2 separate regions of the Homo sapiens genome follow, and region 2 is linked to region 1. A link means that fine-mapping ties the variant in region 1 to the expression of a gene that starts in the linked region. Tissue or cell type: whole blood. Region 1 holds a variant in brackets; the other region holds the start of a gene. All regions are shown on one strand. Distances are from middle to middle.

Region 1 (8,186 bases):
CTCCTGTTCATCATCCCTGAGTCTTTTTCCATCCTCTTTTTTACCACTCTACCCCTCTCCAGTCCCGCCTGTGTCAACAGTACCCTCAGGGAGGAGTCATGAGTGTGGGTTTGGCATCTGCTACTGCCTGTGCACCCCCAAATCATTCCTAGGGACACCTGCCTGAGCCCCAGCCATCTGTATTTGCCCTCCCACTTCCTCAATGTCCTTGGGCACTAAAACTCCCCTGGAGGAGCAGGGGTGGGGAGGAATAGAAAGCAAGGAGTGGTGAAATGGCCACCTCCTGCGTCCTTTAGTTCTTATTGCAGTAGTTAGGATGGCATTTGGGTACTTCAATAGAGACAGCCTGAGCCCCCAGAGCTTCCCAATGGTAGAAACTGATTTCTCTTTTCTCTTCACATTGGCGGTCTGAAGGTGCTCCCACATCAGGGATCCATGCCCCTACCATCTTGTTGTTTTCTTTTCCTCAGCATGTGGCTTCCATCTCGTGGGCTGACATGGTTGCCATAACTCCTGCTGTCACATCCACATCCCCACTTGGCCACTCCTGGCCTCTGGAAAGTCTTGTGCCAACATGGCCACATGCCCAGCCCAGTCCTTATGCCTTCCTGTGCCCATGCCTCACACGATATCATACTTTCCCATCTCTTTCTGTCTAAGAGTGATCCATACACACCCATGATCTGATCTATCCCTGCCGATTCCTTTCTTTCTTATTGTGTTCCACACCCACACATGATCTGGCCTACACTCCTCCTTCTGCCTTGCTGTGTTCCATATCCACACATGGTCTCGATCTGCTCATCTCTTTCCGTCTTTCTGTGATCCACACCTACATATGGCATAATCCCAGCCCATCTTACTGTCTTACACTAATATATGCCCACCCATGTACTGCTCCCTGCCTGGCACTTCCTGTTTTTCTATCTATCATCCCACATGTGACCTGGGCCTTGCCCCACACATTTCTTTCCTGCTGCGATCCATCCACACACACAGTCTGGTCTATCCCTGCCCATTTCTTTCTTTTTCTAGCGAACCATACCCACACATAATCTGGCCCTGCCCATCTATTTCTGTCTAACCATGATTCCTACTCACATATGATCTGGCTCTGCCCATCTCTTTCTGTTTTCCTGTGATACAAATCTATATATTATCTCTGACCGCGATTTTTGTCTTAGTGCAATCCACACCCAATCGTGAATTTATCCCTACCCATCTCTTTTGGTCTAAATGTGATCTATCCATGCATATGATTTGGTCTCAGCTTACACATGCATTTCGGTCTTCCTGTGGTCCACACCAACACATGGTGTAATCCTTGCCCATCTCTTTTTTTCTTAATATGATCCATACCCAGGCACTACTGTGTCTCTGCTCTTCTATTTCCATCTTTCCCACACATGATTTGATCTCTGCTACTTTCTCTCTTGCTTCCTGTTTTCTGTACCCACATAAGGTCTGTTCCTACTGTTCCCCTTCTAAATGTGATCCACATCAACACATAGCCCTGCTCAGCTCTGTTTCTGGCTTCCTGTGATCCATGCCTGCACGTGATCTGGACATGCAGATCTTTCTTTCTTCCTGTGTTGCATACCCACACAGGATCTGTCATTGCCCTTCACTTTCTGTCTTCCTGTTCCCCGTACCCATACAGGATCTGGCTCTGTCCATCTCCTACTGTCTTCCTGAGATTCACAGCAAGACACGATCTGGCTCTGCCCATCTCTTTCTTTCTGTCTTTCTGTATTCCATATCTACACAAGATCTGTCATTTCCTCTCCGTTACTGTGATCCTGTGCTCCAAAACCACACATGATCTGGCTGTGCCCATCTCTTTCTGTGCTCCTGAGAACTATACCCACATATAATCTGGCTCCATCCTTCCCTTCTGTCTTCCTGAGACCAACACCCACACATGGTTTTGTGCTGCCCATGTCTTACTGTATTCCTGAGGATCACACCCACATAGGATCTGGCTCTGGCCACCTCTTTGTCTTTCTAAGATTCACACCCACAAATGATGTGGCTCTGGCCATCTCTTGCTGTCTCCCTGAGATCCACATGCACACATGATCTGGCTCTGCCCATCCCCTTTTGTCTTCCTGTGATTCAGACAAACCCACTATGTGTCTCTGCCCGTCTTTTCCTGTGTTCCTGGATACATACCCAGAAATGATCTGGTTCTTCCCAACTCTTTCTTTCTGTGTTCCATACACGTGCATGATCTGTCATTGCTTGTCATGTACTGTTTTCCCGTGATACATGATCTGTCATTGCCCTTCACTCACTGTCCCCCGATCCATACACACATGATCTGGCACTGCCCATCTCTTTCTGTCTTTGTGATATTCATGCAAAAACATGATTTGGCTCTGTTCATCTCTTTCTTTTTTTTTTTTTGCTGAGATCCATACCCACATGTGGTCTGTCCATTCCAACTATTGCTGTCTTCCTTAGATCCATACCGGCACATGATATGGCTCTGTCCATCCCTTTTTGTTTTCCTGTGATTCATGCCACACATGATCTCACTCTGCTCATCTCCTACTGTATTCCTGAGATTCATAGCTACATATGATCTGGCTCTGTTCATCTCTTACTGTCTTCCTGTGATCTATACCCACACATGATCTGCCTCTGCACATCTCTTACTATCTTTCTGTGTGGGATACTCACATATGATCTGTCATTTCCTACCAGTTACTGTTTTCCTGTCCTCTATACCCACATATGATCTATCTCTGCCTATCTCTTTGTCTTCCTAATATTCATATCCACACATGATCTGCCTGTGCTCATCAGTTTTTGTCTTCCTGTGATCCATACCCACACATTGTTTTATCTGCCCATTTCTTTTTTGTGGGGAAGGGGAGAAATTAAACCTTATTTATTTTAAAAACCAAACAACTAGGAAAATATATCACTGCCTGGAAACAGTGAACAGACAGGCTATATTATCATTTCAAGAAATAACCTGGTAAAACTGCAATGAAGTTGCTATCAAAACAATCAGGTGCCATGCTAGGGCATGAACACTGTGTGTTGCAAAGGCCCCAGGCAAAAATGGTCTTTGGTAATCGGGGACTGCCCCTCCTTTGCTACAGCTTATCTTAGCCCAAGTTGCTTACTTTCTCTTCCTTGAACTTCCTGTGGTCAGGGGTTTGTCTCAATTGGGCTCTGTTCATTCAGGGGCTATGTAAGCAATGCTGGATTTAGGCTTTCATTGCATTCTGTTCTATGAAAACCAGGTTTTTCCAAATCCACTACTTCACAACTCTCTTATAATCAACCAAGTAGCCAGCAACTCCTTCTTTCCTGCTCATTCCTGGATACTGGTATACATCACAACCAAAACCTCCTTTTCTTCCAGGGGAAAATGTGAGGGGAAGATCGTCCTGTCATTCTTCAGCAGACAGCCTCAGGGCCCATCGGCCAATAAGAGGGAAGCTCTGTTTCCCATAATTAGTGTGATGTCACTGCTCATGTTTTTGTGTGGTCCCCAGGCTGAAAGATGCAGTGTGTAAGAATTTTAAGAAGTGCACATCCACACCTTGATGGCCAGAAGAGGGTATCCACAAGGAACCTTTCAAACTTCTTATCTAAACTACTCTCCCTCCCAATTGCACATCTTAAAATCAACTTTATGCCCTTGAGTAAATAATTTTAAAAACCAAGGAAACAAAGACCCTGAAAACTCTTTTCCTCTTCCAAGTTAGTGTCCTCATGGATTTTGTTGCCCAGCTTCTGGAAAATGGTGTGGTGATGCCTCTGGGAAACAGGAGGTTGGCAACGAACAGAAACAGCTCTCCTCAAACTCCACCGAATCTGCCCTACCAGCCTGGTGGGCCCTGTGGAGGAAGAAGAATTTGGTCCTGCAGAGGGGTCTGGCTTGTGACAAGGGAGATCCCTACTGCCAGGACGAGCCCTGGCCACAGAAAATATCGACTTGAAAATATTTTCCTGTAATATCTCT[G/T]ACCCAAATTTTAGCACCGTTTTTTTCCATTTCACTTTTTAGGATTGAACCAGTTTCCAGAGGCAAGTGGCATATGCCTTACACTTGGTGCCATCCTTAATTTCTTCATTCATGAACTTGGCTTAAAAGATTAAACTTCCCATTCCTTTTAAAAATATATTTTTGCACTCAGCCCCCATGGCCACTGGCAAAGACTTTTATTTCCCAGTGGATAAGAGAGACACCTTCCTTGCCTTGCTCATGGTCTGGATGAGGTGCGTGTGGCCATCCACACCCTTGGTCACACAATCTTCCAGTGGCTGCTTCACCTGCAGCTCCTTCCTCCCTGCATCTGTTGAATCTTTGGCTTTGTCATTGCAATGCATGGTACACCCGGTCAGGCAGTCCTGGAACTTCTCCAGCTAGCTGGTCCCCAAGGCTTGGGCTTGAGCCAGAGGCGCATGCCAGCACTCAATGCACCGGTGCACCTGCTGCATGTGCACAACAGCTGGTGCTGCACCAGAACATGAGGCCCTGCAGCTTCCGGATGGTCTATCTCTCCAGACTCTTCACCATGGAGTCCACCTCCTGCACCTGCAGCTGCTGCACCTCCACTACGACGAGTCTGCACTGCCCCCCTATTTCTTACTATCTTCCTGTGTTCCATGCCCACACATGATCTGCCTCTGCCCATCTCCTTCTGTCTTCCTGAGGTCTCTGCTGACACATGACCTGGGTATGCTCATCTCTTTCTTTATTTCTGTGTTCCAAATCCCATATGTTCTGTAATTGTCCTTCAGTTAGTCACTTTCAGTGATCCATACCCACACATGATCTACTCTACCCATCTCTTACTGCCTTCCTCACATTCATAGCACACATGATCTAGGTCTGCTAATCTCTTTCTGTCTGTCTGTGTACCATATCCACACATATTCTGCCATTTCCTATCATCAGTTACTGGATTCCTGTGCTCCATACCCACACATGATCTGACTCTGCCCGTCTCCTTCTGTCTTTCTGAGCCTCATACCCACATATGACCTGGTTCTGCCCATTTGCCTGGGCCTTCCTGAGCCTCACACCCACTGATGATCTGTATCTTGTCACCTCTTCCTGTCTTCCTGAGCCTCACACCCACACATGATCTGCCTCTGATCACCTCTGTCTGTTTTCTATGCCTCCCCCACACACGTGATCTGTGATTTCCTATCAGTTAATACTTTCCTGTGTTCCATACCCACACATGATCTGGCTCTGCTCATCACATTCATTCTTCCTGAGGTCCATACTCATACATGAAGGGACACTTTTACTGTCTTTCTGACATTCATACCCACACACGACCTGCCTCTTTCCATTGCTTACTGACTCCCTCATAGTCATACTCACACATTATATGATTCTGCCCATCTCCCACTATCTCCCTGGAATTCACACCCAAACATGATCTGCCTCTGCCCATCTCTTACCTTCTTTCTGACATTCATATGCACACATGATGTTTTGCCCATCTGCCCATCTCTTACTGTCTTCGTGTCACTCATACCCACACATGATCTGCCTCTGCCCATCTCTTGCTGGCATCCTGACATTGATACCCAACATACCTGTCTCTGCCCATCTCTTTCTTCCTGACATTCATACACACACATGATCTGCCTCTGCCCATCTCTTACTGTGTTCATGACATTCGTACTTGCACATGATCAATTTTGCCCATCTCTTCCAGTCTTCCTGACATATATCCTCGCATATGATCTGCCTTTCCCCATCTTTTACTGTCTGCTTGACATTCCTCCCCGCACATGATTTGCCTCTATCTTTGCTGTCTTTCTGAAGTTCATACTCACACATGATCTGACTCTGCTCATCTCTTACTGTCTTCCTGGAATTCATACCCACAGATGCTCTGCCTCTGTTTATTTCTGACTGTCTTTCTGACATTCATATTTACAAATAATCTGCATTTTCCAGTCTCTTACTATATTCCTAAACATTCATACCCACACATGATCTGCCCCTGCCCATGTTTTACTGTCTTCCTGACAGTCATACCCATACATGATCTTCCTCTGCCCATATCTTGTTGTCTTTTTGACATTTATACACACACATGATATGACTCTGTGCATTTTTTGTCTTCCTGAGACTCATTTCCACACAGGATCTGGCTATGTTCATAAGTGTCAGTCATACTGTGTCATATGCACACATAATCTCTCCCTACCCATGTTTTTCAGTTTTCCTGTCATCCATACCCATCTATTACTTGGCTATCTCCATCTTTTTCATACTTTCTCTGTTCCATTCTCTGATACGATTTTTCACTTGTCTTCACTTTGTCTTCCTGTGACCCATTCCCACAAAAGATCTGGTTCTTCGCTACAAATTCTGTCTTCCTGAAACGCACACCCACTTATTGCCTGGCACTGCTGATTTCCTACTGTCTTCCTAAGATTCCTACCTACACAAGAAGGGGCTATGCCCATTCCATTCTTGTTTGTTTCTTTCATACTCACACGTGATCTGCCTTTGCCCATCTCTTATGTCTTCCTGACATTCATAATACACATTATCTGCCTCTGACCATCTCTGTCTTCCTGACATTCATACTCACACTTTATCTGCCTCTGCTCATCTTTTACTGTTATCATTCATATCACACATAATGTGCCAGGCATATCTTTTACTGTCTTCCTGAGGCTCTTGCCACACCTGATCTACCTCTGCTTATCTCTTACTGTCCTGATGTTCATAGCCACACATTATCTGCCTCTGCCCATCTACACCTGATCTACGTCTGCTTATCTCTTACTGTCCTGACGTTCATAGCCACACATTATCTGCCTCTACCCATCTCTTACTGCCCTTCTGATATTCATTCCTACATGTGACCCGCCTCTGCCCATCTCTGTTTTCCTGACATTCACAGCCACACATGATATGTCTTGTCCTACTCTTACTGTCATCCTGACCTTCATACCAAAGGTGATCTGCCTCTCCACTTCTTACTATCTTCCTGACATTCACACCACACGTGACGTGCTAGGCTTATCTTTTACTGTCGTCCTGACATTCATACCACACCTGATCTGCCTCTGCCCATATCTTACTGTCTTTTTGACATTCACACCAACACATGATCTACCTCTGCCAATGCCTTTCTGCATAATTGACATTCATAACCACACATGATCTGCTCTACCCACCACTTACTTGCTCCCTGACATTGATACCACATTGATCTGCCTCTGCCCATCTGTTACTGTCATCCTGACATTCATACCACACATGACCTGCCTCTGCCCATCTCTAACCGGTTTTGTGAGACTCATACTCACACATGATCTGTCTCTGTCCATGCCTTACTGTCTTCCTGACATTCACATCCAAAGATGATTTGCCACTCTCCATGTCTTACTGTTTTCCTGAGATTCATACCCACTCATTATCTGCTCTGCCCATCGCTTCCTGTCTTCCTGACATTCATACCACACATGATCTTCCTGTGCCCACCTCTTATTGTCTTCCCGACTTTCATACCCACACATGATCTGCCTCTGCCCATTTCTTACTGTCTTCCTGACACTCATGCCACACATGATCTGCCTGTACCCATCTGTCACTGTCTTTTTGACACTAATACTCACACACGATCTGCCTCTGCCCATGTTTTATTGTCTTCCTGACATTCATAACCACACAAGATCTGCCCCTGCCCATCGCTTACTGTCTTCCTGAAATTCATATCACACATGGTCTGCCTGTGGCGGTGTCTTACTTTCTTTCTGACATTCATGCTACACATGACATGCCCCTGCCCATCTCTTCCTGTCTTTTTTTACATTCATACACACACACGATCTGCTCTGCCCATCTCTTAGTCTCTTTCTGACTTTCATACCACACATGATCTGCCTCTGCCCATGTCTTATTGTCTTCCTGACATTCATATTCACACAGGATGTGCCTCTGCCCATCTCTTACCTTCTTTCTGACATTCATATGCCCACATGATGTTTTGCCCATCTCTTCCTGTCTTCCTGACATCCATACCACACATGATCTGCCTCTGCCTATCTCTCTCTGGTTTTCTGACATTCATACCACACATGACCTGTATCTTGCCATCCCTTGCTGTCCTCCTGACACTCATACACACACATAATCTGCTTCTGCCCAGCTCTTATGGTCTTTCTGACATTCATAAATATACATGACCTGC
Region 2 (8,186 bases), 32 kb before region 1:
GACACCTAGAAAACGTTTTCCCAGAGCTGCCTATTCAGAAACTAAAGCCCTCACTGTCATTATTCTTTAAGAAGATGAAATTACTCTGGATGTTTGGTATTTTTTTACATTAAAACAAACTAAAGCAAAATTTAGAAGAAAGAACTACACATATGTAAATACCATATTTTTGATAAAAATGTGTAAATAGATTTATCAATGATGAGTGGACATGTGGTCAATTATCTACTGCACACCAACTGTTTATAGAATACACAAAAATAAAATGTAATAACTGTATTCTGTGAATACCATTTTCATATCAAATGCCATATTTAAATGTCCACCAATATGATTTCTGAGTGGTAAACCTCAAATATGAATTTTAAACTGGTGAACTAAAGGAAATCTTGAGGTCATATACTGAAATATGAATAAATTAAAATAATGAATTCAGATCTAATCATTTTTATGACAAATTGCAGCACCAAACAAACTAATAGCAACCCATGGCTGTGATTTGTTGTGTGGTAATTTGGACAGAATGAAAAGCATGCTTTTGATTTTTTTTTTAATCAGTGAGAGAAGTCATCATTCTCAACACAAAGCCCTGAACAACAGCATTTGACAGTGTCCTTTAGATTTTAATTTTTTCAATGGATTGCTTTAAAGAGAATGAGTAGGGAAAATAGTAGTTAATTTTAGGTTATGTTTTATATTAGGCTACTGGGGACATAAACGGTCATAACTAATGACTGTAATCATTAAACTCCTTAAACAGTTTAGAAATTAGCTCCAGGTTCTTAAACTAACAAAAATAAAACCTAAGCATGCCACAGAGCTATTGATTAATCAGTAAGTACCTGTAATGAGTTTTCAGTGAAGCTTTCTCTCTGTGCTGATGAGATTCATGCTACCTAAAAATTAACAGAAATGACACTGTGAACAATGTAGTTGGAAAATAGGTATGTGTATATGCATTATTTATACTCATTGTTAAACTGGGAATGGGGAACAGCTCTGGTTCACAATACTACATACAACTGAGTTTTTGTCTGGTTTTACTATAGTGTCTGCTTGATGGCAAAAGGGGAGGGTGGAGGGTGGGAGAGGAAATGTCAGGGCATGTGCTCTGATAAAATAAAGGCAGGGAAACAAGCTGAATTACTTGAAATTACTTGAATTTTCTTGTCTTAAAACTGAAAAAAAAATGTAGTTACACGTTAAAATCTGCAAATGGTTTTTACACCTCTGATTTTAACATGAACTTATACTAATGTTTGGAATCTTATGTCAGAAATATAAGCAGCTATGTACTTAGAATAGGTTTTGAATGGGAGAGGTAGAACAGAGAGAGAATTAAGAAGGGATCTGACTTATAAAAGACTAGAATGTGATTAGAGTGATAGAACATACCAATGTTACCAAGAAATTGACAAGCTGCTGGCTTTAAGCTTATGCAAGTGGTAGTTGGGAAAGTAGGAGGTGTGGAAGAGGGTTTGCATTTTGGATTAATTCATGCAAAATGAAGGAGGAAGCCTGGTCTAAGAAGATACTGTCTTTCAATAGAAATGATTTCTAAACTGCTACAGATTAAGAATAGATAATCTGATTGCTGTTGTTTTGTTTGTTTGGAAAGAAAAAAAATGTCTGGCTTCTTCTACTATTTGTTTTCACTACCAAACTGTGTTACTAAATTTCTTGTCATCCTTGTATGTAAAATGGGTGCTGGGGGTGGAGGGGTATAAGAGGAGGGAGAGTCAGAGAGAGTGTGTATGGGTGTGTGTGAGTGTGAGTGTGTGTGTACGCACACACACTGGGGATAGATAAGCTACCTGGTAAAGGGTTTGAACATTTACAAAATGTCACACTTTTTCTTAAAAGAAAAATATTTTGGGGTTTGAATAAAATGGACCACCATTTCTCATTGGAACCCATTAATTAAGAAAACCAGCATGGTTTGACACCACATGGGAACATGAATAAATCTGTCTCATGATTTGAAAAGTACACCTTGCAAAGTTTTAAAAATAAAGTTTTTAGGCAAATGCGATAAGAAACCGTCATTTCCAGTCACAGTAGGCGATCTTTCGTAATTTCATAAAAGCAGTTCGTTTGCAGTATGGCTTTTGTGTAGTTAGGGGTTTTTTAAGTGTGAAGAAAGGTATGTGGGCTTTAAAAGTGATTCTAAATCTTGAATAGAAAACACATGAATTGGCTTTAATAAAAATGTCACCTTTTTATTATTGACATTAAGTAATGGTACCATATATTTTTTAAAATACATATTGACTTGAATTGTGAGGCAATAAGATACCTTCTATATGTAATGATCACAGAACTAACCCTTATAATATAGTTTTACTTATTTTGTTTACTCTAAAAATCTATAGCAGAGTTTCTCTATTTTATATTTCATAGATTTAAAAAACCCAAATAAAGATGGATTTAAAATTCACTGTGGAAAAGAGTATTGAGTTACAAACTGAGAAGAAAAAGCAGGAAGTTCCCTAATAATCTGGAATATTCTACATGGCTTGATTACATAGCAAACAAGACCAAGATTTAGGGCTGTCTTTAACATCACTGCCGTCTTGAAGCAGGGTACACACGTTAGGTATTGTGAAGAACATCAATCCGAACTTTTCTTCTGTTGTTTGCACTGATGCGATTTTTTGTTCTTTTATGTTTATACAACGTATCTATGTTGTGTAGGGGAAATTTTTTCATTTTTTAAAAATTCTACTTTGGTTTTGTTGTTGTTTTGATTTGTTTTTGGCTAAGTAGAGGACATGGACTAGTTGTAGCAAACAGAACATGCTGTTTGCTCTTGCCAAAGGTCAGTGAGTGAGTGCATTTGCTGCAGTGGTGGCACGTAGAGAACTAGATGGTAATAAAGATTTAAAACTATGAAGAAGGTTACAGTGTAACTATTTTGGTACTAGAACCAGTTCATGCTGGCCGAAACGACAATGGTTTATGGACTTGCATCCATTTTGTATTTTTGTAATATTTGTAAATATGAACTTTTTAAATTGCTGCAAAGATGGTTTCTTTTGTAAGATGTTTTCAACGTTTACATTCAATCCAAGCCTTTGTATATTTTAGAGCTGTGCAACACTTTAAGTCTTGTATTTATTTTTAGTAAAAATGGTGACAGTTTCATTGTGAACCCCTCTCAAAAAAAATGTATCAGAAAAGTTTGATTACCTAGAAAGTGTGTATAGAAACTGCAAATAAACGTGACTGCAATTAAACAACCGGTTTCTCTCTTCACTGTTACGTAATTGATTTCTTGGGGCTTCGCAACAGTGTTTTACAGGCAACAGGACATAAGGGCAGGGTCTGTTATGGCAAAAGTAGGAGCAAAAAGAACATAGACCAGCCTGTCCAACATGGTGAAACCCGTCTCTACTAAAAATACAAAAATTAGCTGGGCATGGTGGCAGACGCCTGTAATCCCAGCTACTCTGGAGGCTGAGGCAGGAGAATCGCTTGAACCCAGGAGGCAGAGGTTGCAGTGAGCCGAGATCACACCGCTACACTCCAGCCTGGGCAACAAGAGCAAAACTCCGTCTCAAACAAAAACAAAAACAAAAAAAAAACATATACTATATCTATAATGGGCTTTAATCTAGCTTCGTATTTGAGAGGAAAAATGATACATTTCCAACGTCCAGTATACTTTCTTTGTAGCTCCTCTCTGGGCCAAGAAAAGATGTATAGCTTTACTTTGAAATATCTGCCTGCTTTGCTTCTGATAATTACTCAGACTGTGTCTCCTTCCCAAGATGAGCAGCCTCGATATAAGTATGTAAGACTATATGCCACTAGATGATGTCACATAGCCTTTATTACAATAGCAAAATTCTATGCCAGGTACTGTTCTAAGTGCTTTGCATACATTAACTCATGTAGTCCCCATATTATACCCATTTTACAGATGGGGAAACCGAAGCACAAAGCGGTTACTTGGCTTGCCTAAGGCCATAGGAGGACTGTGTTGGAGCTGGGGGTCCAATCCAGTAAATCTGCCTTCAAGGTCTGCGTTAGTTCCCCAGTCCAACTTGTGGGTGCTGGAGACTGGAAATATCTTGCCCGCCCCCCACCCTGGCCCCCCTCGCCCTTCCTACCAGACCTGGCTCAGGGCAACTGCTAAGGCCCCGCCCCTCTCCTCATTCCAAGTCAATCACTGGCGTGCGTCCAGGAAACCCAGTTTACGACGACGTCTCTGGTGCGTCACAGAGCGCGGGGGAGGGGCGGGATCACATTAAAAAAAAAAAAAAGCTTCGGACACCCCAACAACGAAGGGGGGACACCACGTCCCTAACTACAACGCCACTAGAAGGGTTGCGCATGCGCGCCAGCCTCCTGCGCAGCCGCAGAAACCACTCAGCGCGCGAGTCTCTGAAAGGCCTAACGTCCATTTTCAATCCTGCGGGTCTTGCGAAGGAAAACCTGAGGTAAGAGGCCCCGCCCCACAGCCATCTCCTCAGCAAATTCCCGCCCTCGGCCCCGCCCCACAGCTATCTCCTCAGCAAATTCCCGCCCTCGGCCCCGCCCCACAGCCATCTCCTTAGCAAATTCCCGCCCTCACCCAAGGACTGGGAGAGCACCCGCGGATTGGCCGATCAACGGTGACGCCTGTCAGTGGCCAGACTCCGATTGGTCAGCGGGTAGTCCCGCCCCCCCCCCCCCCCCCCCCCCCCCCAACCGCGAGTGTGGGAATTCGGCGTCGCGGGAGCTCTCTGATCCACTCAGGGGTCAGGGCATCACTGGTCTCGCGTGCGCGTGACCAGGCCCGGTTTCCGGTGCCAGGACCTTTCCGAAGCGTCGAGTGGCCTAACGGTCACAGCTGTCGCCCATCGGAGAGGCAGGACTACTGCGAGCAGTTTTACCGCGACCTCCGGAGGCCGGCGTGACAGGCTCTGTCACTAAAATAGGTCTGTCCAGTCGTACTTTTTCCTCACCTTGAACTTTCCGTCACGGGAATACACGATTTGGCTTAGGGGCCGGGGCTCTCCTGAGGAGAGAGGGTTTGCTTTGCGGGGAAGAGCGAGTCTTGACTTCGCAGCCTCCAATTTCAGCCGCGGTGTGGAGGGGGGTGCTTTGGGTGGTCCCCACAGCCTTTCCGGAGTGCCCGCGCGTGTAAGCTTTTGAGATTTGACAATTTGTGAAGTGCTTGGTGCTGACTTTCGGGGACGACAGGATCCTTTTACAGTCATTCTCCTGTCAGGGGAGGCAGGTGGGGAGCGAGGAAGGATCCAGATTTCGTTAACAGAGCTTTGAGTTTAAAGAATTGACAAACTCCCGAGTTGATTTCCTGTCAGACCTTTTGCGGTTGAGACATAGAGTCTGAGGCTTTGATGGTAACCGCGTTTGATTTAGAGACAGACTGTGCAGCTTCGCTGTTTTATTGTAAATACGTAAATGAGGAGGAAGAGAAAAACGTAGGGTGTTGGGAGCAGAGGCGGGAGGCGGGAGATCCTGCGAAATCGGAGTCCCTTTGGAGTGGGGGAGGCCGTCGAGGCGTGCGAGGGCCCGGCCCCCTTGCCGCGTGGTCGTTAACAGGAAAGGCCCTGATTTGGTTGGTGGCGGATCGCGTCCCTCCCTCCTCTCCCCGGCTCTCCCCGAGTGCGGCAAACTGGCTTCAGGTTGACTAAAAGATAGCGATTTTCCAAGCAGCTTTGCCGCGCGGTGTTTTCTAAAGCGGGGCGTGGGCTGGGTGCCCTTTTGGGCCTCACTTGTCCGGCCTGCGGCAAGTGCTGGGCGATGGGATGCGGTTCTGGCGGCAAAGGAAGGGCTGCCTTTGAGAGTCCCGCAGGAAGGTTTAGAAAGTGATTGTTCTTAAAACAAACAGAGCGTTTTGCTGTGTGTTCCTCAAAGTGGTCCCGGTGGGAGTGGCGCCTCATTGTGAGCTGTGCCTTATCTGATGAATTAATGGCAGGTGAAAGCCTTGCGCCTCCGGAGCGAATATTTACGACTTTTGAAAATGTCTTTAATGTCTAAAAAAAGTCTTTTAGAAAATCAGACGGCCTCTTGTTCTTATGTTATCAAGAGTTTAGATTTCTGTGGTAAATATAAGTGAGTTTCATTTTAAGTAAACTCATTTTACGAGATTTGAGATTTGAAAGTGAAATTAATTAATTTTGCACAATCTAGCCTTGGGCTCTGAGAAAATGTTGTAAAGCTGTAATTAATCTTGTGGGACGAAGTGAAAAGGAACTAAAGTGTATGGTGTAATGAATAGTTTAAATTTCTGTGGTAAATACAAGTGAGTTTCATTTTAAGTAAACTCATTTTTATGGGATTTGAGATTTAAAAGTGAAATTAATTAATTTCGCACAATCTAGTCATGGTTGGGCTCAGAAAATGTTGTAAAGTTGTGATTTATCTTATGGAAAGAAGTGAAAAGGAATTAAGGTATATGGTGTAATTAAGAGTTTAAATTTCTGTGGTAAATGCAAGTGAGTTTCATTTTAAGTAAACTCATTTTTACGGGATTTGAGATTTAAAAGTGAAATTAATTCATTTTGCACAGTGTAGTCATGGTTGGGCTCTGAGAAAATGTTGTAAAGCTGAAATTATTTATCTTGTGGGAAGAAGTGAGAAGAAACTAAAATGTGTGGTATTATCAAGAGTTTAGATTTCCGGGGTAAATATAAATGAGTTTCCTTTAAACTCATTTTTGTGGAATTTGAGGTTTAAAAGTGAAATTAATTTTGTAGAATCTAGTCATGGTTGGGCTCTGAGAAAATGTTGTAAAGCTGTAATTTATCTTGTGGGAAAAAGTGAAAAGGAACTTAAATTTATGGTGTTATCAAGAATTGGCCAGGCGCGGTGGCTCACACCTGTAATCCCAGCACTTTGGGAGGCCGAGGTGGGCAGATCACTTGAGGTCAGAAGTTCGGGACCAGCCTGGCCAACATGGTGAAACCCAGTCTTTACTAAAAGTACAAAAATTAACTGGGCATGGTGGTGCAAGCCTGTTACGCTAACTACTCGGGAGGCTGAGGGAGGAGAATTGCTTTAACCCGGGAGGCAGAGGTTGCAGTAAGCCGAGATCATGCCACTGCACTCCAGCCTGGGTGACAGAGTAAGACTCTGTCTCAAAAAAAAAAAAAAAAAAAAAAGAAATTTAGATTTCTGTGGTAAATATAAATGAGTTTCATTTTAAGTAAACTCATTTTGTGGGATTTGAGATTTAAAAATGAAATTAATTTTGCACATTCTAGTCATGGTTGGGCTCTAAGGCAATGTTGTAAAGCTGTAATTGTTTGCCTTATGGGAAGAAGTGAAAAGGAATTAAAATTTATGGTGTGTCTACTATGAACCAGGCATGATGCTGAGAGTTTAACTGTGTAATTTTTGGCCTAAATAGCCCTGTGAAGTAGATATTATTCCAACTTTACAGGTTAGAAAATTTGAGGCACAGAGAGGTGAAATATTTGCCTAAAGTGAAACGGCAAATTTGGCAATTTGGACTTGGATTCAAGTGTTTATAACTAAAGCCCAGCTCCTTGCATCATACCCTGGTACCTAAAAGACATAAAAACTCACTTCAGGTGCAATGTGAATGAAAATGACGTTATGACCCAGGCTTGTTGTCTATGTGCTCCTTGAGAAATAGTTCTGTTGGATAGATGCGGTCAATACTCAAAAGCCCTTGCTATCTTTGCCATGCATTACTCTAAGCACTTGACATGTATTAATTTAATCCTCACGATTCCGTGAGGTATGTGCTATTATCATTCCCATTTTACAGACAAAAAAAAAAAAGGATTTAAGTAAGTTGTTCAACTTACTTACACAGCTAGTATGTGGGGGAGGTGGGACCCAAACCCAGGTATTCTGACCACAAGCCTAAGGTCTTAATGCTGTTTGATGCTGCCTCTCATGTAACCAGATATGTGTGACAGTTGCCGTAGAAGTATTAAAGTGTGAGTGTTATTGTAGTTCAGGGAAAGCCGTGTCACATCCACATGGGATGATCATTGGCATGGTGCCCTTGCTTTTTGGAGGTGAAACTTGAAGTAAGCCTTGAAGTTGAATAGATTCTCCTAGGCGGAGACACAACAGGGTATTATGGACGGAGGGCATAACAGGAGCGAGAAGCTCAAAGAGTGAAAGATTGGTGTTGATTTGTATATGTACCAGAGATGTAAACATGTTGGGAGTCCAGTGGTGGACTCACTGCACAGTGCTCC

Evidence for each region. PIP is the estimated chance that this variant, and not a neighbour inherited with it, causes the effect.
Region 2: SCML1 starts here. The variant in region 1 is fine-mapped to the expression of SCML1 in whole blood (TOPMed, PIP 0.91).

What each region holds. Positions count from the first base shown.
Region 1 is chrX:17,764,829-17,773,014 of GRCh38, forward strand. It overlaps the pseudogene FAM136GP. Among named protein-coding and RNA genes, the nearest start is that of SCML1, 31 kb to the left of the region's middle. The variant G/T (reference allele first, on the strand shown) is at 3,980.
Region 2 is chrX:17,732,759-17,740,944 of GRCh38, forward strand. It overlaps SCML1 (Scm polycomb group protein like 1), which reads left to right and starts at 4,735. Exons shown (of 8, transcript NM_001037540.3): 1 at 4,735-4,922. It overlaps NHS (NHS actin remodeling regulator), which reads left to right. Exons shown (of 9, transcript NM_001291867.2): 9 at 1-3,236.